Homo sapiens: one gene and its partners. The main gene of each other region encodes a partner of the protein of the gene in region 2 in a complex. Each region holds a gene or a part of one and is shown on either strand. Other genes may lie near its edges.

Evidence for each region.
Region 1: RPL13A (region 2) and SYNCRIP share a complex: the UniProt entries of both Homo sapiens proteins name them as parts of the GAIT complex.
Region 3: RPL13A (region 2) and GAPDH share a complex: the UniProt entries of both Homo sapiens proteins name them as parts of the GAIT complex.

The regions. Positions count from the first base shown.
Region 1 is NC_000006.12:85,618,839-85,625,912, forward strand, and holds part of SYNCRIP (heterogeneous nuclear ribonucleoprotein Q), read right to left. Parts: intron 5,275-7,074; coding exon 5,139-5,274; intron 3,850-5,138; coding exon 3,644-3,849; intron 580-3,643; coding exon 430-579; intron 102-429; coding exon 1-101. UniProt on the Homo sapiens protein: Heterogenous nuclear ribonucleoprotein (hnRNP) implicated in mRNA processing mechanisms. Component of the CRD-mediated complex that promotes MYC mRNA stability.
Region 2 is NC_000019.10:49,483,534-49,490,662, reverse strand, and holds the start of RPL13A (large ribosomal subunit protein uL13), read right to left. Parts: upstream 3,056-7,129; 5' UTR 3,034-3,055; coding exon 3,019-3,033; intron 814-3,018; coding exon 741-813; intron 698-740; exon of another isoform or gene 616-697; intron 432-615; coding exon 366-431; intron 189-365; coding exon 87-188; intron 47-86; exon of another isoform or gene 1-46. Other genes in the region: FLT3LG (fms-related tyrosine kinase 3 ligand), read right to left, coding at 4,461-4,648. UniProt on the Homo sapiens protein: Associated with ribosomes but is not required for canonical ribosome function and has extra-ribosomal functions.
Region 3 is NC_000012.12:6,529,540-6,537,564, forward strand, and holds the start of GAPDH (glyceraldehyde-3-phosphate dehydrogenase), read left to right. Parts: upstream 1-4,977; 5' UTR 4,978-5,030; exon of another isoform or gene 5,031-5,270; 5' UTR 5,271-5,293; coding exon 5,294-5,322; intron 5,323-5,724; exon of another isoform or gene 5,725-5,930; intron 5,931-6,954; coding exon 6,955-7,054; intron 7,055-7,144; coding exon 7,145-7,251; intron 7,252-7,380; coding exon 7,381-7,471; intron 7,472-7,561; coding exon 7,562-7,677; intron 7,678-7,769; coding exon 7,770-7,851; intron 7,852-8,025. Other genes in the region: NCAPD2 (condensin complex subunit 1), read left to right, coding at 1-54, 236-419, 1,152-1,278, 1,382-1,537, 1,788-1,873. UniProt on the Homo sapiens protein: Has both glyceraldehyde-3-phosphate dehydrogenase and nitrosylase activities, thereby playing a role in glycolysis and nuclear functions, respectively.

The sequences.
Region 1 (7,074 bases), on a different chromosome or scaffold from region 2:
CTCTGAGCTTTTCTTTCTTTCCTTTTCTGATCTGGTGGCTTGGCAAAAACAATTTCAATATTTTCTCCCTCCAAGTCTTTGCCATTCATTTCTTCCATAGCCTTAAAAAATTAGATAAGTCAATATAAAAATAGGACTTTCATACAATTATGATTCATTTAAAGTTGGAATATCATTTATCATTAATGTGGGAAGGACAAGAGAAAGCCCCATGCAGGCAGTCAAATAATTTTATTTAAAGATGCAGATATTCAATTATTTTTCATTTTTACTTAGAAAACTGCCAACATCACTAAAACCAAAAGGTTTTAGTTTGAATGGATTCCATGGACTTCCAAAGTCTCCTCCAATTTGTAAAACTATTTTGAGATTCTAAAATGACTAAATTTGTTAGTCTGATTTAGATGCCTGTAATTCCACCATATTTACCTTGACAGCACCATCTCGCTCATCAAAATGAATGAACGCATAATCTTTTAACTTCTTCACTCGTTCCAGTTTCCCAAACTGACTAAATGCCTTTTCTAAAATCTCTTCTGTTACAGTATTGGCAAGGTTGCGTACAAACAGCACTTTTACCTAGGGGGAAGAAAATACCCCCCTGTATTATTTCCAAAGAGTTCCATTTCTAAGATACCACCACCCCACCCTACAAAGTTAACTCAAATCACAATCCATTAGAAGAATGTCAGAATATAAAAAAAAAAAAAGTTTTCAACTCCTTGGGTAAATATCAAGCAGCAGAACTGCTGGATCATGTTGAAAGACCTGAAATAGATGCTTTGCCAAAAAAGATATACAGATGGCAAAGAATCTCATGAAGATGCTCAATATAATCTGTCATTCGGAAACCGCAAGTCAAAACTATTAGAATGGCCAAAATCCAACACACTATAAATGCAGGTAAGAATGCAGAGCAATAGAAACTCTCATTCATTGCTGGTGGGAATGCAAAAGGGTATAGCCCCTTTGAAAGACAGTTTGGCGATTTCTTACAAAACTAAACACACACTTCCATATGACCCAGCAATCCTGCTCCTTATTTACCCAGAGTTGAAAACTTACATGCACACAAAAACTTAGAGAGAGATGTTAATAGCAGCTTTATTTGTAACTGCCAAAAATTTGCCAGACGCAGTGGCTCACACCCGTAATCCCAGCAATTTGGGAGGCTGAGGCGGGCAGATCACCTGAGGTCAGGAGCTCGAGACCAGCCTGGCCAACACAGTAACACCCCGTCTCTACAAAAATACAAAGATTAGCCGGGTGCGATGGTACGCAACTATGGTTCCAGCTACTCGGGAGGCTGAAGCATGAGAAATGGTTGAACCCAAGAGGCAGAGGTTGCAGTAAGCCGAGATCGTGCCACTGCACTCCATCCTGGGTAACACAGCGAGACTCTGTCTCAAAAGAAAAACAAAAAAATTTCCAAAAATTGGAAGAAACCAAGATGTTCTTCAATGGGAGAATGGACAATTGTGGCACATACAGAAGGAATATTATAACTGATAGAAACTAGTTAAAAGCCACAAAATGACATAGAAGAACTTTAAATATGTATTACTAAGAGAAAGAAGCCAATGTGAAGGTTACATAATGTATGGTTCCAACTATGTAACATTCTGAGAAGGCAAAACTATGGAGACAGTGACTGCCAGTGGTTGAATGGGGAGGGATGACTAAGCACAGGACAGAGGATTTTTAGGGCAGTGAAACTATTCTGTATAATACTATGATGGAAACACGGTTATACATTTCTCCAAACCCACAGAACATACATCTAGAGTGAGACCTCATGTAAACTATGGACTTTAGGTAATCAATCTACGTCCATCAATTTTAACAAATGTACTATTCCAGTGCAGGATACTGGTAGTGAGGAAGGCTGTGCCTGTGTAGGGGGCAGAAGTCATATGGCAATTCTGTGCTTTCTGCTGTAAACCTAAAACTGCTCTAATGAAGTCTATGAAAAAGAAAATGCAGACTACAGGCTACATCAGTAATAATTACCAATTAGTAATTATTTTGCAATAAAAAAGATAATTTTTCCTAACAAAGTAAATACCATGCCCTCTAAGAGAGTTATTGAATGTTTAACACTTAACAAGAGTGGCCAAAACTAATTAGGACCTGCTTTTGAAATCTTAAAGGGGGAAGGACTGTTCAAAATATTAGTAAGACAAACTGTTCTCAATCCTGAAAGCTTCTCAAAGTAAAATTACAAAATTTAACCTCTTCACTAACATTATCACTTCCTCCTAAAATAACTTGAATACCATCTGAATGTGTTAATCTAAAGTGCTAACCCAATGAGAATTTATAGGCCAGAGGAAAAATGAATCCTAACTATTTTCTCTTCTCTAAGACCACTTATCCTTCAATAATATTCATAGCTCCCTGGCAGTTCATATTACCCTCAATTTAACTCAACTAGTGGTGTCTGACACCTAACCTGTAAGTAACAAAGAGGGAATTCTTAAAAGACAAAGGATAACTGGGGCATGGTGGCTCATGCCTGTAATCCCAGCATTTTGGGAAGCAGGATTGCTTAAGGCTAAGAATTGTAAGACCGGCCTGGGCAGCACAGGGAGATTAACTCTGCCTCTACAAAATTTTTTAAAAAAATTAGCCAGGTGTGGTAGTACACACCTGTAGTTCTAGCTACTTGGGAGGCTGAGGTGAGAAGATCTCTTGAGCTTGGGGCTACAGTCAGCTATGATCATGCCCCTGAACTCTAGCCCTGGGCCACAGATCTAGACCCTGTCACTTAAAAAAAAAAAAAAAAAAAGAGAACAAAGGATAGAACAAATAACTGCAAATTACTGCACCAGTGTGTAATAAAGTGTTGACTCAAGGGATGTTTATTCTTATACAATGTCTCCACTGACTGCTGAAGTCAGGATACCTAATAATGGCTAAATGTAACTGCAAGCACCTCTGCTGCGGCCAGTATAATTTACTGTTTTTAGTAGTAAGACTTTTAACCCCAAAACCATGTAAACTAATGGTGCCATTCTCAAAAACTCAAATTGCTCTTAAAAAACACACAAAATGGAAGTCAACTGTCTACAGCATGTAGGCGACTTCATTACAAGATTGTGATGGCTATACAATTATGGCTAAGTATCCACGCATCAATTTCTATTTTCACTTTGCAGGCACATGGTATTTCCAGTGCGCACTGCCTAGTCCCGTAGTAAAGAACATTTCTCCCAACTCTAAAAATATGGTTTAAAAAAAAATGTGTCCAGGGCCAGGTGCAATAGCCTCACGCCTCTAAATCCCAGCACTTTGGAAGGCCGAGGTAGGTGGATCCCGAGGTCAGGAGTTCGAGACCAGTCTGACCAACATGGTGAAACCCCAGCTCTACTAAAAAAAACACAAAAATTAGCCAGGTGTGGTGGTGGGAGCCTGTAATTCCAGCTACTTGGGAGGCAGGAGAATCACTTGAACCCGGGAGGCGGAGGTTGCAGTGAACCAAGATGGCACCATGGCACTCCAGCCTGGGAAACATGGGAAACAAGAGACTCTTGTCTCAAAAAATAAAAAAATGTATACTGTTCATTTTATGTTCCCCCCACCCCAACCCCGGCCCTTCTCCCATTAATCCCTCAAAAAATATTTTTAACTTGACTATCATTACCTTTGCCATAACCTCAGGATCAGGATCTTCTATAGGATCAGCCCATTCAACAGTTCCAACATTCCCCCAGACCTTGACTTTACCACTCATTAACCTACGCCTTGCCTGGGCAGCTGTTTTGTGATCTTCATATTCAAGAAAGCAAAAGCCTCTGTTTTTTTTCTTGTCATCCGGTTGGTGGTATAAAATGACGTCTGTAAGACCCTCTGCAAGTAAGCAACCATTCCAGGAAAATTAGATGAAATAACTAGCAAATACAAGTGGATCAAAGGATTTATCTAAGATACTACTTAAATATCAAAATGAAAAATCATCTCTTTCCTTCACTAGACATCTTTATAAAAGACTATCAAAAACTAGGTCCGGATTATTTTCCTAATCTGTTTCCAAGTTTTTCAACACAGAAATCTCCAGAAAAGAACATGTGCTCTTTTTAGAGGTAAGGACTACTTTTGTTTTCACTAATTAGATCAGAGAGGCAGATAAAAATTTTCATATAATTGTTCTAAGAAAATGGCAGTATAGATCAAATATGGCTATTTTTCTTATTATGCAAACACTAAAATTATTTTTAATGGCACTTTTCTGGCCTTAGATATCAATGGCTTTATTTCAAATAAAATAGAAGTTATAAGTACTGCATAAAAATTTCCAATGTCCTGAAAGTTGATAACAGGCTGATAATTTGTTAGACACTGTTGGCAGACCAAAATATTTTCTAAAAGCAACCTGTCACTTAAAAGTTGTTACAGTTCAAAAAATTTTTTTACCATGTTGACAATATATAAACTCTGTTTATGGGCCAGGCACGGTGGCTCATACCTGTAATCGCAACACTCTGGGAGGCCGAGGCAAGCAGATCACTTGAGGTCAGGAGTACAAGACCAGCCTGGCCAATATGGTGAAACCCCACCTCTACAAAAGACGCAAAAATTAGCCAGGTGTGGTGGTGCGCGCCTGTAATCCCAGCTACTCAGGAGGCTGAGGCAAGAGAATCCCTTGAATCTGGGAGGCAGAGGCTGCAGGGAGCCAAGATCACACCAGCACACTCCAGCCTGGGCAACAAAGCAAGACTGTCTCCAAAAAAAAAAAAAAAAAAAAACACTCTGCTACGGCAATACTTACTACTCCTGTAATTTCAAGAACATCAAATCATTATTCAAACAATTCTACTAAGAACATCAACTAACACCTAGAGAAAGAACACACAAAGAAATACGATCTTCCAAAACATAGGAAGAACAATGATTTTGCAGAATGAATTCAAACCCTAGCTGTATTCCCTACTAACTTGTACAACGTTTGGCAAGTTATTTCCCAAATCCCTGAATGCCTGTTCTTCTTATCTGAAAAATGGGGTTACCTACACTTCAAAAGTTGTAGTGAGGATTCGATGAGTCAATAAATGTATTTAGAACAATGCATGACGCACAGAAATATGCTATTAATCTTCATTATTAAAAGCTGCACCTCATTCCAAATAAATCCAACTTACCTGTTACTTTGCTAAATTCTTCAAGAATCTGTTCCTTGGTTTTACTCTTAGGAATAGAGCCCACAAAAAGCCTATTGTTGGCAACTGAGATGCAGACACCAATATGTTTTCCAGAACGAATTTCATGATTATTATACTGAAAGGGGAAAAAGTGCATCATGTTTTTAAATTACTTATACAACTAGAACAGTTAATTATAAAAGATACACAAGAGCAAATCATCCTTTAAAAAGTAGTTTACCTTAATTCCCATACAAGGGAATTATGAGGAACAGATTATATTAACAAGACCCATTGGACAAGTTCATGAACCAATTTAATGCAAATAAAAGGTTATTAAATCCTTTACTTGATTAATTAGAAATCAGATCTGCAGCAGCTTAAATTCAAAAACTGCCAGTTCCTCAAAAACTTAACTTTTACTTAAGTTCATCCCATCAACCAGTTATTCTCATACAAGGAAAACTGATCCCAAGATCAGCAAGATCTCTGCCGTTCTGTTAACCAGCACCTAAATCTATTTTTCCATCTTCCCTTCCTCTTATCAAAAGTTGTAATAAGAAATTTCAGGCTTCAAATATTTAAGCCTAAAAAAACAGCTTTTATTTCTAAATCCAACTGTACTTTTTCCCCATTTCATTTTCATTATGCATATAACAAATTATGAAGGAGAAAGAGAAGTAGATTTGTCATGGCAAAAATATACAGAAACAACTTTAAAACTACAGTAAAAAGTAAATTGAATTTTCGAGTAACCATATCCCAGATTATCAGAAAGCAGAGGCAAAAAGCAACATGTCAAAGTGACAAATCCACCAATTAGTATTATTTACAAACCCAAGTGCAAAAGTATCCAAGTAATCTAGAAAAGTGGATTATATGGGTTAGTTAAAACCACACCTCAAAATTTGTTACTAATAATGGCGGCAGCAGCGGCAATAATTATTGATTAATCCTCCCACACCTAACCTCAAAATCTATTCTACACGTGGAGCTACACAAACTAAAGAACCAACATCAATTTCCATACAACTTTATAGAAATACCTTACAGCAAAAGAAACCATTCTTCTATTATGCCCATCCTTGCTAGGTACACCGGGTATAACAGAAGAAAACATGTAAGTCAGAAAGTTGAGTCCTCCCTGTCCCTTCCCCATCTCCAGAAAATCAAAATTTAATAAAGTTCAAATACCATACCTCCAGTTCAGAAAAATTTATTGCTTTCTACCCCACTATTCTGTACAGGCTATTCAAGTGTGTGGCCCTCCTGATCCCAGGTTTACTTCTATTTCTCTACATTTATGCCAGAGACACAACATTAAAAAAAGTAAAAAGATGACTCCTGCTACTTTCTCCTCTCTCTCTCAAATACCTTTTTATATCAACTCTTAAACATACAGGGTTTTTTTTTTTTTGTCTTTTCTGAGACAGAGTCTTGCTCTGTCCCCCAGGCAGGAGTGCAGCAGTGGCACTATCTCGGCTCACTGCAACCTCCGCCTCCTGGGTTCAAGCAATTCTCCTCCCTCTACCTCCCGAGTAGCTGTGATTACAGGCGCCTGCCACCATGCCCGGCTATTTTTTGTATTTTTAGTAGAGACGGGGTTTCACCATGTTGGCCAGGCTGGTCTCAAACTCCTGATCTTGTGATCCACTCGCCTCGGCCTCCCAAAGTGCTGGGATTACAGGTGTGACCCACCATGCTGGGCCACATGCAATTTTTATACTCCTATGGCTCTGAAGAAATTGCCTTCCTTCCCTGAAACTTCTACCATACAAGCTCCTCTGGATACCTGTAAATTAAGTTCAACCACCCAATACTACAATACATAAATCCTAAAAGGGTCAACAAAATACTCCTCCATGTTAACACAGACCAACAGTTCTCAACAGGAGTGATTTTGCCCCCCAGAAGTCATTTGACATTCTTGATTGTC
Region 2 (7,129 bases):
GGTCGGGAAACTCGAATGTGAGTGGGAGAAGTTCTCATCACCGGCCGCCTGCCCGTCACCACCTGCAGTCCCCACGCTCTGCTCACCTCGCACGGTCCGCCAGAAGATGCGGCTGGGGGCCCGGAAGTGGTAGGGGCCTCGGGAAGGGTTGGTGTTCATCCGCTTGCGGAGGAAAGCCAGGTACTTCACTAGGGAGAGGGGAGAGTGTGAGGCCTGCCCAGTCTACCAGCACCCCCAAAACCCCACTTCCAAGGGCCTTCTCAGAAACCCCAAGTAGCCTCTCCCAACACGGCTGCAATTGCTTTCAGAGCCTCAACACCCCACAGGGAGACCCTCTCCAGTGCTCCTCCCAGGTCCTAACTTACACTTGTTTCTGTAGAAATTGCCAGAAATGTTGATGCCTTCACAGCGTACGACCACCACCTTCCGGCCTAGAGGGAGGGAAAGGCTTAGCAGGGCCGAGCCGCCTGAGGGTCCCACCACTGCCTATGCAGTCACCCTCCAGACACAGCGCAGTACTTGCCAGAGCTAAGTTCCTGTTTAAATGAAAAACTAGCCTAATACATAATTACTTCTTGAGCCTGGAGTCCCCAACCCTGGGGAAGAGTGGCTGGCAGGTCTCAGAGCGGTGCATGGGGTTGATCTCATGGCCGTGAGACTCAAACGAAAGATGGTGAATGTTGCTCATCACTGACCTCCAGCGGGGGCCCATGACAGAGGGGCCACGAGCAGCGACTTACCCAGCAGTACCTGTTTAGCCACGATGGCCGCCAGGCGGCCCAGGAGATGGCCTCGACCATCAAGCACCAGGACCTGTGGGAGACAAGGGCAAAAGGACTCAGAGACAAGGACAGCCTTTGATTGTCCTCACAAGCAAGCATTCCCTTCTTTTGTCCTACCGTGCCAACAGCGTGCCTTGCACCCAGCCATCAGAGCTGGGAACTATGCACGGAGCCCCGTTCTACAGATGAGGAACAGGGACTGAGAAAGCAAGGCTGCCTCAGGATCAGTGAGTGAGCAGTTTAAGAGGCCCAAACTCCCCTCATATCTGAGTTCTTCTATGAGTATTTTATGCTCAGATTGTATTTTGCAAAGCAATTGGATTTGAACGAAGACCAGCAAGGCTCTGCCCACTGACTACCCAGTTACAAGACCTTGTAACTAATAAACTGTAGGATTTGGTTTTGAGACAGGGTCTCGCTGTTGCACAGGCTGTCCTGTGATCCTGTGACCTCCCAGGATCAAGCTATCCTCCCACCTCAGCCTCATGAGTAGCTGGGACTACAGGCGCGCACCACCACACGCAGCTAATTTTTGTACTTTTTTTTTTGTTGAGTCAGGGTTTTGCCATGTTGCCTAGGCTGCTCTTGTACTCCTCGCTTCAAGTGAACCGTGTGCCTCGGCCTTCCAAAATGCTCGGATTACAGGCTTGAGCCACTGTGGCCAATCAATTGTAGGATGTTAACACAATCTAATTCTCTTCTAATGTATAGGATGTTTCTACCACAAATTTAATTTGGAAGAAAACCGAATTTCAGGTGGGATGAGATTAGGCAGAGTAGTCAAAAGCCCATGCTAGCTCTGCTATAGAGCACTCTGCTTTCCCCGGTAAACTGCTCAGGCACCGAACCTCAGCTTCCTCCGGAGTAGAAATCCTGGCCGGGCACAGGGGCTCACGCCTGTAATCCCAGCACTTTGAGAGGCCTAGGTGGGCAGATCAGTTGAGGTCAGGAGTTCGAGACCATCCTGGCCAATATGGTGAAACCCTGTCTCTACTAAAAACACAAAAATTAGCCAAGCGTCGTGGCAGGCACCTGCAGTCCCAGGTACTCGGGAAGCTGAGGCAGGAGAATCACTTGAACTTGGGAAGCAGAGGTTGCAATGAGCCAAGATCGCACCATTGCACTCCAGCCTGGGTGTCACAGCGAGACTCCGTCTCAGAAAAAACACTAAAAGTAGAAATCCTCATTGTTTTAATGCAAAAGCATGAAGCACACACTGGTTGTTACACATGCTTTGTAAGCGTTGGTACAAAGACTCTAAAATCCAGACAGACTTCCTGAAGTCGTGACCTTGGCCCAAAATCACCAATTCCAATTTAATTTCCTCCTCTGTAAAACAAGGATACCAGTAACTGCCTCAGGAATATGGTTAACTGAACTACGCAAAACATTGCGAACTGTGCTAGGCACAAAGACACATGCTTGGTGAACACAACTTGCCTAGATCGGCCTGGCTCTGAAATGTCACCCGCCCCAACAACAGACTACTCACAAAGAAACCTTTCCAGGGCCAATCCCTCCTTTATACTTAAGTAGCTACACCAGGAGCCAGGGAAAGGGCCCCCAGGTGTCAGGCCCAAAAGATGTCCCATCCTTGTGGAACCATTCATCACAGCTCTCGACTTCCAGTAACACGCCTCAGGACAATCGCCAATCCCCAAAACGACGGAAAACGAGTTCATTCCAGAGTGCCCCGCAGCCAACAGCTCTCGACCCCCCGCAGAAAGGCATTGAGAATTAAAAGAACCGGAGCTGCAGGGGACCCCGATTAACACCTCCACGTGAAATCAAAGTAGCCCGCGCACTGAGCGGGATAAAAATACCTTCCATTTTGGCCAAAACTCAGTTTCTCATTGCCCCGAGACCGCCCGGCCACACTTCCGCGTGTTCCTCATCGCTGAGGACACACAAGGGTCCAATTCGGCCAAGACTCTACCCCAGGGCCCCCACCCACTACCCGAGTTCAAGGTAAGCAAAATCTAGTTGCAAAATACCTGTCCTGTGCTGGAAGCTCTATCACCCTCGCCTCGAGAAGGAAATGCCACATTGTAGCCAACCCTAGGCCTAAAGAGAGCCGCGGCATTTCCTACAGATTCCCCTTATCCCAAAAGACTTCCATTTTGCTTCATTATGGATGTTAAGCTCCGCAAAACATGCAAGACAGAGAGGGTGCGACCCCATTCCGGCCTGGATCCCACCCGGCCCCTTGCCGCCCCGGCCCGCGCGGAGCCCATACCTGCACCTCCGCCATCTTCGGCAGCCGCTTGGAAAAGGAGGAGGTTTTGTCGCAGGGTTTCTTATCCCTTGAAACAGGGGCGGCAGAAGTGACGCAACGCGGTTGCGCGGACGGCTTCCTGTGTTTTCATTGGTCGAAGCGTTCTGCGCGTGCGCAGAGATTCCCCAGGGAAGGCGGGCCCTCTTCCGAATGTCCAATCCGGACATTCTTCCGGTTGGACCTCCGCGGTCAGCGCTGTGCCCGGCGAGAGATCACGTGGGGCGCGGAGGCGGTGCTGCTGGGGCACGGCCGTCCAGCCTCGGCGGCCATATTTTTGAGGGGCTGTTCATCTCGTTCACACGCTCTGTCCGCCATGTTTGTGAGTGGAAGCGCCATTACCCCTTCAAGCGACTGAAGGCTGCAGGGCCTCTGGTGGCCCGCATGGGGAGACCAGACCCGCCAGGCCCGCCTTTCCGCACTCAGTCCGGGCTTACTTTATTTTGTGAGACAGGGTCTCGCTGTGTTGTCCACACCAGAGTGCTGTGGGGCGATCATGGCTCACCGCAGCCTCCACTTCCTGGGCTCAAGGGATCCTCCTGCCTCAGCCTCTCGAGTAACTTGGACTACAGGGGCGCGCCACCATGCCTGGCTAATATATATATATATATATATTTTGTTGTGGCCCGGGAACGGGGGGAGTCTGACATGTTGGCCAGGCTGATCTCGAACTCCTGGGCTCAAGCGATCCTCCCGTTTCGGCCTCCCAAAGTGCTGGGATTACCGGCGTGAGCCCCGGAGCCTTGCCCATTCTAGGCTTAGAGATTTGGATTCCTGTGTCTGGTCGACTTCACTGTGACCTGGAGAAACCCTTGGCCTTATCTGGGCCTCAGTTTATCCATCTGTAAAACAGATGGAGGTGGTCTTCCCCAGGGGCTCTAAGAGTGGATCAAGGAATGGCTTCTAGTTGCCTGGCTGCACCAATCCACTGAGCGTTCCTCAGAGGAACTTCTCACTTTCTGGACTGTCGGCCTTTGCTTCAGCTGGGTCCCTTGCCCAGGATGCCCTCCCCACCCCCTCCAAATCTGGCTTGTCACCATCGCAATGCCATTTGGCTCTGGAAAGCCTCTCTGCTCTCCCTGCCTGGGTGAGTTGCCCCTCACACTGCCTCTGTTTTATCTCCATAGTAGCCTATGGCATCCTGCACCCAGGCTCGCTGAATCCCTTGTCTTCTCGTCCATAGCCAAGGAGACCTGGGGCACCTGGGCTGGTTCTGACTCAAATCCAGGCTCTGACATTGCCCAGCGCCGGCCCGGGGCTCCAGGGGACCTCAGAAAACACGTATTGAATGAAACATTGCATTGCAATTCAAAAACCAAGATTCTGAAATCAAAACTACCCCATTCACACCCATCCATAGACAGACCTGGCCAGAGCTGGTAGAAAAGGATGATTTATATACAATTTCATGGGGACAAGGGCTTTGTACAGAGTTGGGTAAATGGGGCCGGTGCTGGATTCTGGCGTTGCCTCCATTCTGGGGAGGGAATGAGAGGGGCCCAAGGAAGGGACCGGCCTCTAGCCAACTTCCTCTGTGTCCAGGCTATGCATCCTCTGGCTGGTGACTCCCCTCTGTGTGCCTCAGTATCCTCCCCTGTAAAATGGGATGATAGATGTCTGTCTCACTGCGTTGTTTAAGGCTCCGCTGAGAGAGGAGAGGGAAAGTAGCTTAGCTTGGGGCGGGCCACAGATTTATGCCCAAAACAACTCCATTCCCAGCAAGCGCTTACTATGTGCTAGGGCATTGCTGTCCAAGAGAACGTGGCCATGATAGAAATGTTCCCTATATTTCCCCGGGCGCGGTGGCTCATGCCTATAATCCCAGCAGTTTGGGAGGCTGAGGCTGGTGGATCACCTTAGGTTGGGAGTTTGAGACCAGCCTGACCAACAGGGAGAAACCCCATCTCTACTAAAAATACAAAATTAGGGCCAGGCACAGTGGCTCACGCCTGTAATTCCAGCACTTTAGGAGGTCGAGGCGGGCGGATCACCTGAGGTTGGGAGTTTGAGACCAGCCTAGCTAACATGGAGAAACCGTTTCTACTAAAACTACAAAATTAGCTGAGGCAGGAGAATTGCTTGAACCCGGGAGGCGGAGGTTGCAGTGAGTCGAGATTGCACCATTGCACTCCAGCCTTGGCAATAAAAGCAAAAGTCTGTCTCAAAAGAAAAAAACAAAAACAAAAACAAAATTTGCTAGGCATGGTGGTGCATGTCTGTAATCCCAGCTACTTGGGAGGCTGAGGCAGGAGAATCGCTTGAACCTGGGAGGCAGAGGTTGCGGTGAGCCAAGATCGTGCCATTGCACTCCAGCCTGGGCGACAAGAGCGAAACTCCCATCTCAAAAAAAAAAAAAAAAAGAAAAAAAAGAAAAAGAAACGTTCTCTATTTTTGCTCTTTAATACGGGAGTAACAAGCCACATGTGAATACTGAACACTTGAGATGGGGCCGGTGCACTACTCAGGAGGCTGAGGCAGGAGGATCACTTGAGTCCAGGAGTTTGAGGCTGGACTTAAACTTCTTTTGAGACAGTCTTGCTCTGTTTCAGGCTGGAATGCAGTGGCATGATCTCAGCTCACTGCAGCCTCTGCCTCCCGGGTTCAAGCCATTCTTCCTGCCTCAGCCTCCTGAGTTAGCTGGGATTACGGGTGCACGCCACCATGCCCAGCTCATTTTTATATTTTTAGTAGAGACGGGGTTTCACCATGTTGCCCAAGCTGGTCTTGAACTCTTAGGCTCAAGCGATCTGCCAAGGAGTTACAGGTGTGAGCCACCATGCTGGGTGAGATACAATAAAATTAATATCAGGTATTAGTTGGGCAGGGCGGCTCATGGCTGTAATCCTATCACTTTGGGAGGTCAAGGCGGGCAGATCACGAGGTCAGGAGTTCGAGATCAGCCTGGCCAATATGGTGAAACCCCATCTCTACTAAAAATACAAAAATTAGCCAGGTGTGGTGGTGTGTGCCTGTAATCCCAGCTACTCAGGAGGCTGAGGCAGTAGAATCGCTTGAACCCGGGAGGCAGATGTTGCAGTGAGCCGAGATCGTGCCGTTGCACTCCAGCCTGGGCAATAGAGTGAGACTCCGTCTCAAAAACAACAACAACAACAAAAGAAACCCCGTCTCTACTAAAAATACACTAAATTAGTTGGGCGTGGTGGCAGGCGCTTGTAATCCAAGCTACTCCAGAGGCTGAGGCAGGAGAATCGCTTGAACCTGGGAGGTGGAGGTTGCCGTGAGTCAAGATAGCACCACTGCACTCCAGCCTGGCTAACAAGAGCAAAAGTCTGTCTCACAAAAAAAAAAAAAAAAAAAAATTATAATAAAAAATAAATTTAAGACAGGAAACAGATTGGACAGGGACTAGGTTGGGAGGAAAACTGCTCAATGTATTACCTTTTCTTAAAAAAAAAAAAAAAGATAGGCTGGGCGTGGTGGCTCACGCCTATAATCCCAGCACTTTGGGAGGCTGAGGCGGGCAGATCACGAGGTCAAGAGATCGAGACAATCCTGGCAAACATAGTGAAACCCTACCTCTACTAAAAATACAAAAATTAGCTGGGTGTGGTGGCACGCGCCTGTAGTCCAAGCTACTGGGGAGGCTGAGGCAGGAGAATCACTTGAACCCGGGAGGCGGAGGTTGCAGTGAGCCGAGATCGTGCCACTGCACTCCACCCTGGGCGACAGAGCAATTTAGATACTGGTCTTTGATCTTTTTTTTTTTTTTTTTTTTTTTTTTGAGACAGAGTCTCCCTCTATTGCCCAGGCTGGAGTGCACTAATTATTTTTGTTGTTGTTGGATAGATACCGGTCTTAGCAATCATGATGATTCCCAGAGATAGCAACTGGGATTCTAAACTCTTCTGTGTGGTTTTTTTGTTTTTGAGACAGGGTCTTGCTCTCTCACCCAGGCTGGAGTGCAGTGGCACAATCAGGGCTCACTGCAGCCTCGACCTCCTGGGCTCAAGCAATCCTCCTACTTTGCCTCCTAAGTAGCTGGGACTGCAGGCATGTGCCACCACACCCAGCTACTTTTTAAAATTTTTTGTAGAGATGGGGTTTCACCATGTGG
Region 3 (8,025 bases), on a different chromosome or scaffold from region 2:
CAAGCAGACAGAGAGCCTGGTGGAAAAGCTGTGTCAGCGGTTCCGCACATCCCGGTATGCTGCCCTCCCTGAGGGTTCTTTGTGCTGAGCGGGGCCCTGCAGGGGAGAAAGGCCCATCCCTCACCCCTTCAATGCCCCCACTGTGGCATCCCTGGGACTGGGGAGGCTGATGGGGAAGGTTGAGCCTTTACTAGCTGGATCTCCCAGTTCCTCACAAAGCCCTTCCTATCTGCAGAACTGAGCGGCAGCAGCGAGACCTGGCCTACTGTGTGTCACAGCTGCCCCTCACAGAGCGAGGCCTCCGTAAGATGCTTGACAATTTTGACTGTTTTGGAGACAAACTGTCAGATGAGTCCATCTTCAGTGCTTTTTTGTCAGTTGTAGGCAAGCTGCGACGTGGGGCCAAGCCTGAGGGCAAGGTGAGCAGCACAGGACACTTCAATGCCTGTTGGGTTCTGGGCTGGCTAAGACATCTGCCGGCCCTGGGCAGCATACGGCTCTTGCAGTCACCTTCCCGTCCTCCTTATCCCCAGCTGGGTTGCAACCAAATTGCCAGAGTGACCTAAGACCAGATCTTTGTCTCCAGTTCTTTTTTTATTACTCCAAAAACACAACCAAAGCAGCATCTCATCCAATTCTTGTTTGTTTGTTTTTAATAGTTTTTATTTTTCAGAGCAGTTTTAGGTTCAAAGCAAAATTGAGCAGAAAGTACAGGGAGTTCCCTTCTACCCCTTGCCCCTACACATCACAGCCTTCCCCACCTTCAACATCCTGCACCAGGGTGGCACATTTGTTACAGCTGAACCTACACTTACACATCATCTCCTAAAGTCATGGTTTACCTTGGAGTTCACTGCACGTAATGACATGTACCCACCATTGCAGTATCATACAGAAGAGTTTCACTGCCTTACAAATCCCCTGCACTCCACCTATTTATCCCTCTCTCCCCACAACCCCTGATCTTTTTACTGTTGCCATCACTTTGTCTTTTCCAGAATGTATCATTGGAATGATCCGGTATGGAGCCTTCTCACCTTGGCTTCTTAGTAATGTGCGTTTAAGGCCTCCATGTCTTCCATGGCCTTGTTTCTTTTTAATCAGAAGTAACTGTTTTCAGGCCTGCTCTGAATCTCCTTTTCTCCCTCCAGGCTATAATAGATGAATTTGAGCAGAAGCTTCGGGCCTGTCATACCAGAGGTTTGGATGGAATCAAGGAGCTTGAGATTGGCCAAGCAGGTAGCCAGAGAGCGCCATCAGCCAAGAAACCATCCACTGGTACGTAAGGCAGCCTGTGCGGGCGAGACCAGACTGGGCCCTCCCCTCCTGCAGTGATTTGTTTCTTCTTCTTTTTTAAATCACGTTTTCCTGCCTTTTCTAGGTTCTAGGTACCAGCCTCTGGCTTCTACAGCCTCAGACAATGACTTTGTCACACCAGAGCCCCGCCGTACTACCCGTCGGCATCCAAACACCCAGCAGCGAGCTTCCAAAAAGAAACCCAAAGTTGTCTTCTCAAGTGATGAGTCCAGTGAGGAAGGTATGATGCTCCCGCCTGTTCCCGGCCGAGAAGGCACACAGCTAGGGTGCAGAGGGCTGGTTTCCATAGGACCTGCTGCGGGGGCCTGAGTGTAGATGCTCTGCCCCACTGCCGCAGAAGGGCCTCTCCTGTACAGCTTGGATTTTATTTCTTCTGTGCGGTGTGGGATTGTCTCACTTGTTCTCTGATATCTATTTTTTCACCATCTTTGTGACTCAGCTTTTTCTTATTCCTTTAATTCTTTGCATAGATCTTTCAGCAGAGATGACAGAAGACGAGACACCCAAGAAAACAACTCCCATTCTCAGAGCATCGGCTCGCAGGCACAGATCCTAGGAAGTCTGTTCCTGTCCTCCCTGTGCAGGGTATCCTGTAGGGTGACCTGGAATTCGAATTCTGTTTCCCTTGTAAAATATTTGTCTGTCTCTTTTTTTTAAAAAAAAAAAAGGCCGGGCACTGTGGCTCACGCCTGTAATCCCAGCACTTTGCGATACCAAGGCGGGTGGATAACCTGAGGTAGGGAGTTCGAGACCAGCCTGACCAACATGGAGAAACCCCATCTCTACTAAAAATAAAAAATTAGCCGGGCGTATTGGCGTGCGCCTGTAATCCCAGCTACTCAAGAGGCTGAGGCAGGAGAATCGCCTGAACCCAGAGGCGGAGGTTGTAGTGAGCCGAAATCACACCATTGCACTCCAGCTTGGGCAACAATAGCGAACCTCCATCTCAAATTAAAAAAAAAATGCCTACACGCTCTTTAAAATGCAAGGCTTTCTCTTAAATTAGCCTAACTGAACTGCGTTGAGCTGCTTCAACTTTGGAATATATGTTTGCCAATCTCCTTGTTTTCTAATGAATAAATGTTTTTATATACTTTTAGACATTTTTTCCTAAGCTTGTCTTTGTTTCATCTTTCACATTAGCCCAGTTTCATGCAGCAGAGAGAGGGTTATCAGTGCAGAGAGAGATGAGTGAGCCCAGAGTCCTAGGGCCTGTCCCGGGATGGCAGATGAGCTTCCTGCCCCGTCACTGCCACCTTTCCCCTCTCAACCTCTGGACCCTGCACAGTGACCAGACAGCCTCTCTGGGGAGAATTATGCAGTGCCTAGGCTCCAGATCAGTGCTTCTGAACCGGGGGCAATTTTGTCTGCCAGAGGACATCTGACAACACCTGGGGCCTGTTTTGTTGTCATAGCCTATAGGGGAAGAATGCTACCAGCATTTGTGGGAAGAGGCCAGGGATGTGGCTCAACATCCTGCAGTGCACAGGATGGCCCCTCAACAAAGAATCACACGGCCCACAATGTCAATAGCGTCACAGTTGAGAAAACCTGCTCTAGACCAAGGGTTGCTTTCTGCCGTGTGCCTCACCCCACCCCCACTCGTGTTCCCTAATCCCATCTCCAAAGGTTGGCAGCAGACCGGCCCAGGCTCGTGGAAGTTCAGATCATGATCCCCTCCAGCTCTGCAGGAGACAAGACCTGTCTCCCAGCATTCCTCATTGTTCCCGGGTCTGCAGAGGGCGTGAGCTATGCTGCAGGCGGGCTGCCCCCTGAAGCCTGCGCACCCCTCTCCAGCTCCTCAAGTCTTCTCTGCTGAGTCACCTTCGAACCGGAGGCTGTGAGCTGGCTGTCGTGACCACACTGGTGCCTCTGCTGTCATGACAACAGCACACTACGTCAGTAGTGCTCCCTGGGCACTGAGCTCCCTCTTTGCGGGGAGAAGACAGTAATGAAAAATGACAAGCATGAGGCAGAGGGGAAGATCACGCTTGGGTGGTGCAGGAGCATGGAGGTGCTCTTAATGCTCTCAATGAGAAAGGGTTAACGGTCCTGGTTGCAGGAATAGCTGAGTCAGAGGTGGGGCTTCCTCCACTCCCCCACCCCACCCCTTTCACCATTAGGGACCTTCTTGCCTTGCTCTTGCTACTCTGCTCTGGGTGGTCATTGTGAAAAGCCCGCACCAACCATGCCAGTGGCAGCCAGACGAGGACACAGCCTGGCTCTGGGTCCCAGCAGGAAAGGCAATCCCAGAAAGGCAGGGTCAGGGACTGGAGTCCTGTGGGTGCTTTTTAAGCAAAGATTATCACCAGGCAGGCTAAACTTAGCAACCGGCTTTTAGCTAGAAGGGCAGGGGGCTGGTGTCAGGTTATGCTGGGCCAGCAAAGAGGCCCGGGATCCCCCTCCCATGCACCTGCTGATGGGCCAAGGCCACCCCACCCCACCCCCTTCCTTACAAGTGTTCAGCACCCTCCCATCCCACACTCACAAACCTGGCCCTCTGCCCTCCTACCAGAAGAATGGATCCCCTGTGGGAGGGGGCAGGGGACCTGTTCCCACCGTGTGCCCAAGACCTCTTTTCCCACTTTTTCCCTCTTCTTGACTCACCCTGCCCTCAATATCCCCCGGCGCAGCCAGTGAAAGGGAGTCCCTGGCTCCTGGCTCGCCTGCACGTCCCAGGGCGGGGAGGGACTTCCGCCCTCACGTCCCGCTCTTCGCCCCAGGCTGGATGGAATGAAAGGCACACTGTCTCTCTCCCTAGGCAGCACAGCCCACAGGTTTCCAGGAGTGCCTTTGTGGGAGGCCTCTGGGCCCCCACCAGCCATCCTGTCCTCCGCCTGGGGCCCCAGCCCGGAGAGAGCCGCTGGTGCACACAGGGCCGGGATTGTCTGCCCTAATTATCAGGTCCAGGCTACAGGGCTGCAGGACATCGTGACCTTCCGTGCAGAAACCTCCCCCTCCCCCTCAAGCCGCCTCCCGAGCCTCCTTCCTCTCCAGGCCCCCAGTGCCCAGTGCCCAGTGCCCAGCCCAGGCCTCGGTCCCAGAGATGCCAGGAGCCAGGAGATGGGGAGGGGGAAGTGGGGGCTGGGAAGGAACCACGGGCCCCCGCCCGAGGCCCATGGGCCCCTCCTAGGCCTTTGCCTGAGCAGTCCGGTGTCACTACCGCAGAGCCTCGAGGAGAAGTTCCCCAACTTTCCCGCCTCTCAGCCTTTGAAAGAAAGAAAGGGGAGGGGGCAGGCCGCGTGCAGCCGCGAGCGGTGCTGGGCTCCGGCTCCAATTCCCCATCTCAGTCGTTCCCAAAGTCCTCCTGTTTCATCCAAGCGTGTAAGGGTCCCCGTCCTTGACTCCCTAGTGTCCTGCTGCCCACAGTCCAGTCCTGGGAACCAGCACCGATCACCTCCCATCGGGCCAATCTCAGTCCCTTCCCCCCTACGTCGGGGCCCACACGCTCGGTGCGTGCCCAGTTGAACCAGGCGGCTGCGGAAAAAAAAAAGCGGGGAGAAAGTAGGGCCCGGCTACTAGCGGTTTTACGGGCGCACGTAGCTCAGGCCTCAAGACCTTGGGCTGGGACTGGCTGAGCCTGGCGGGAGGCGGGGTCCGAGTCACCGCCTGCCGCCGCGCCCCCGGTTTCTATAAATTGAGCCCGCAGCCTCCCGCTTCGCTCTCTGCTCCTCCTGTTCGACAGTCAGCCGCATCTTCTTTTGCGTCGCCAGGTGAAGACGGGCGGAGAGAAACCCGGGAGGCTAGGGACGGCCTGAAGGCGGCAGGGGCGGGCGCAGGCCGGATGTGTTCGCGCCGCTGCGGGGTGGGCCCGGGCGGCCTCCGCATTGCAGGGGCGGGCGGAGGACGTGATGCGGCGCGGGCTGGGCATGGAGGCCTGGTGGGGGAGGGGAGGGGAGGCGTGTGTGTCGGCCGGGGCCACTAGGCGCTCACTGTTCTCTCCCTCCGCGCAGCCGAGCCACATCGCTCAGACACCATGGGGAAGGTGAAGGTCGGAGTCAACGGGTGAGTTCGCGGGTGGCTGGGGGGCCCTGGGCTGCGACCGCCCCCGAACCGCGTCTACGAGCCTTGCGGGCTCCGGGTCTTTGCAGTCGTATGGGGGCAGGGTAGCTGTTCCCCGCAAGGAGAGCTCAAGGTCAGCGCTCGGACCTGGCGGAGCCCCGCACCCAGGCTGTGGCGCCCTGTGCAGCTCCGCCCTTGCGGCGCCATCTGCCCGGAGCCTCCTTCCCCTAGTCCCCAGAAACAGGAGGTCCCTACTCCCGCCCGAGATCCCGACCCGGACCCCTAGGTGGGGGACGCTTTCTTTCCTTTCGCGCTCTGCGGGGTCACGTGTCGCAGAGGAGCCCCTCCCCCACGGCCTCCGGCACCGCAGGCCCCGGGATGCTAGTGCGCAGCGGGTGCATCCCTGTCCGGATGCTGCGCCTGCGGTAGAGCGGCCGCCATGTTGCAACCGGGAAGGAAATGAATGGGCAGCCGTTAGGAAAGCCTGCCGGTGACTAACCCTGCGCTCCTGCCTCGATGGGTGGAGTCGCGTGTGGCGGGGAAGTCAGGTGGAGCGAGGCTAGCTGGCCCGATTTCTCCTCCGGGTGATGCTTTTCCTAGATTATTCTCTGGTAAATCAAAGAAGTGGGTTTATGGAGGTCCTCTTGTGTCCCCTCCCCGCAGAGGTGTGGTGGCTGTGGCATGGTGCCAAGCCGGGAGAAGCTGAGTCATGGGTAGTTGGAAAAGGACATTTCCACCGCAAAATGGCCCCTCTGGTGGTGGCCCCTTCCTGCAGCGCCGGCTCACCTCACGGCCCCGCCCTTCCCCTGCCAGCCTAGCGTTGACCCGACCCCAAAGGCCAGGCTGTAAATGTCACCGGGAGGATTGGGTGTCTGGGCGCCTCGGGGAACCTGCCCTTCTCCCCATTCCGTCTTCCGGAAACCAGATCTCCCACCGCACCCTGGTCTGAGGTTAAATATAGCTGCTGACCTTTCTGTAGCTGGGGGCCTGGGCTGGGGCTCTCTCCCATCCCTTCTCCCCACACACATGCACTTACCTGTGCTCCCACTCCTGATTTCTGGAAAAGAGCTAGGAAGGACAGGCAACTTGGCAAATCAAAGCCCTGGGACTAGGGGGTTAAAATACAGCTTCCCCTCTTCCCACCCGCCCCAGTCTCTGTCCCTTTTGTAGGAGGGACTTAGAGAAGGGGTGGGCTTGCCCTGTCCAGTTAATTTCTGACCTTTACTCCTGCCCTTTGAGTTTGATGATGCTGAGTGTACAAGCGTTTTCTCCCTAAAGGGTGCAGCTGAGCTAGGCAGCAGCAAGCATTCCTGGGGTGGCATAGTGGGGTGGTGAATACCATGTACAAAGCTTGTGCCCAGACTGTGGGTGGCAGTGCCCCACATGGCCGCTTCTCCTGGAAGGGCTTCGTATGACTGGGGGTGTTGGGCAGCCCTGGAGCCTTCAGTTGCAGCCATGCCTTAAGCCAGGCCAGCCTGGCAGGGAAGCTCAAGGGAGATAAAATTCAACCTCTTGGGCCCTCCTGGGGGTAAGGAGATGCTGCATTCGCCCTCTTAATGGGGAGGTGGCCTAGGGCTGCTCACATATTCTGGAGGAGCCTCCCCTCCTCATGCCTTCTTGCCTCTTGTCTCTTAGATTTGGTCGTATTGGGCGCCTGGTCACCAGGGCTGCTTTTAACTCTGGTAAAGTGGATATTGTTGCCATCAATGACCCCTTCATTGACCTCAACTACATGGTGAGTGCTACATGGTGAGCCCCAAAGCTGGTGTGGGAGGAGCCACCTGGCTGATGGGCAGCCCCTTCATACCCTCACGTATTCCCCCAGGTTTACATGTTCCAATATGATTCCACCCATGGCAAATTCCATGGCACCGTCAAGGCTGAGAACGGGAAGCTTGTCATCAATGGAAATCCCATCACCATCTTCCAGGAGTGAGTGGAAGACAGAATGGAAGAAATGTGCTTTGGGGAGGCAACTAGGATGGTGTGGCTCCCTTGGGTATATGGTAACCTTGTGTCCCTCAATATGGTCCTGTCCCCATCTCCCCCCCACCCCCATAGGCGAGATCCCTCCAAAATCAAGTGGGGCGATGCTGGCGCTGAGTACGTCGTGGAGTCCACTGGCGTCTTCACCACCATGGAGAAGGCTGGGGTGAGTGCAGGAGGGCCCGCGGGAGGGGAAGCTGACTCAGCCCTGCAAAGGCAGGACCCGGGTTCATAACTGTCTGCTTCTCTGCTGTAGGCTCATTTGCAGGGGGGAGCCAAAAGGGTCATCATCTCTGCCCCCTCTGCTGATGCCCCCATGTTCGTCATGGGTGTGAACCATGAGAAGTATGACAACAGCCTCAAGATCATCAGGTGAGGAAGGCAGGGCCCGTGGAGAAGCGGCCAGCCTGGCACCCTATGGACACGCTCCCCTGACTTGCGCCCCGCTCCCTCTTTCTTTGCAGCAATGCCTCCTGCACCACCAACTGCTTAGCACCCCTGGCCAAGGTCATCCATGACAACTTTGGTATCGTGGAAGGACTCATGGTATGAGAGCTGGGGAATGGGACTGAGGCTCCCACCTTTCTCATCCAAGACTGGCTCCTCCCTGCCGGGGCTGCGTGCAACCCTGGGGTTGGGGGTTCTGGGGACTGGCTTTCCCATAATTTCCTTTCAAGGTGGGGAGGGAGGTAGAGGGGTGATGTGGGGAGTACGCTGCAG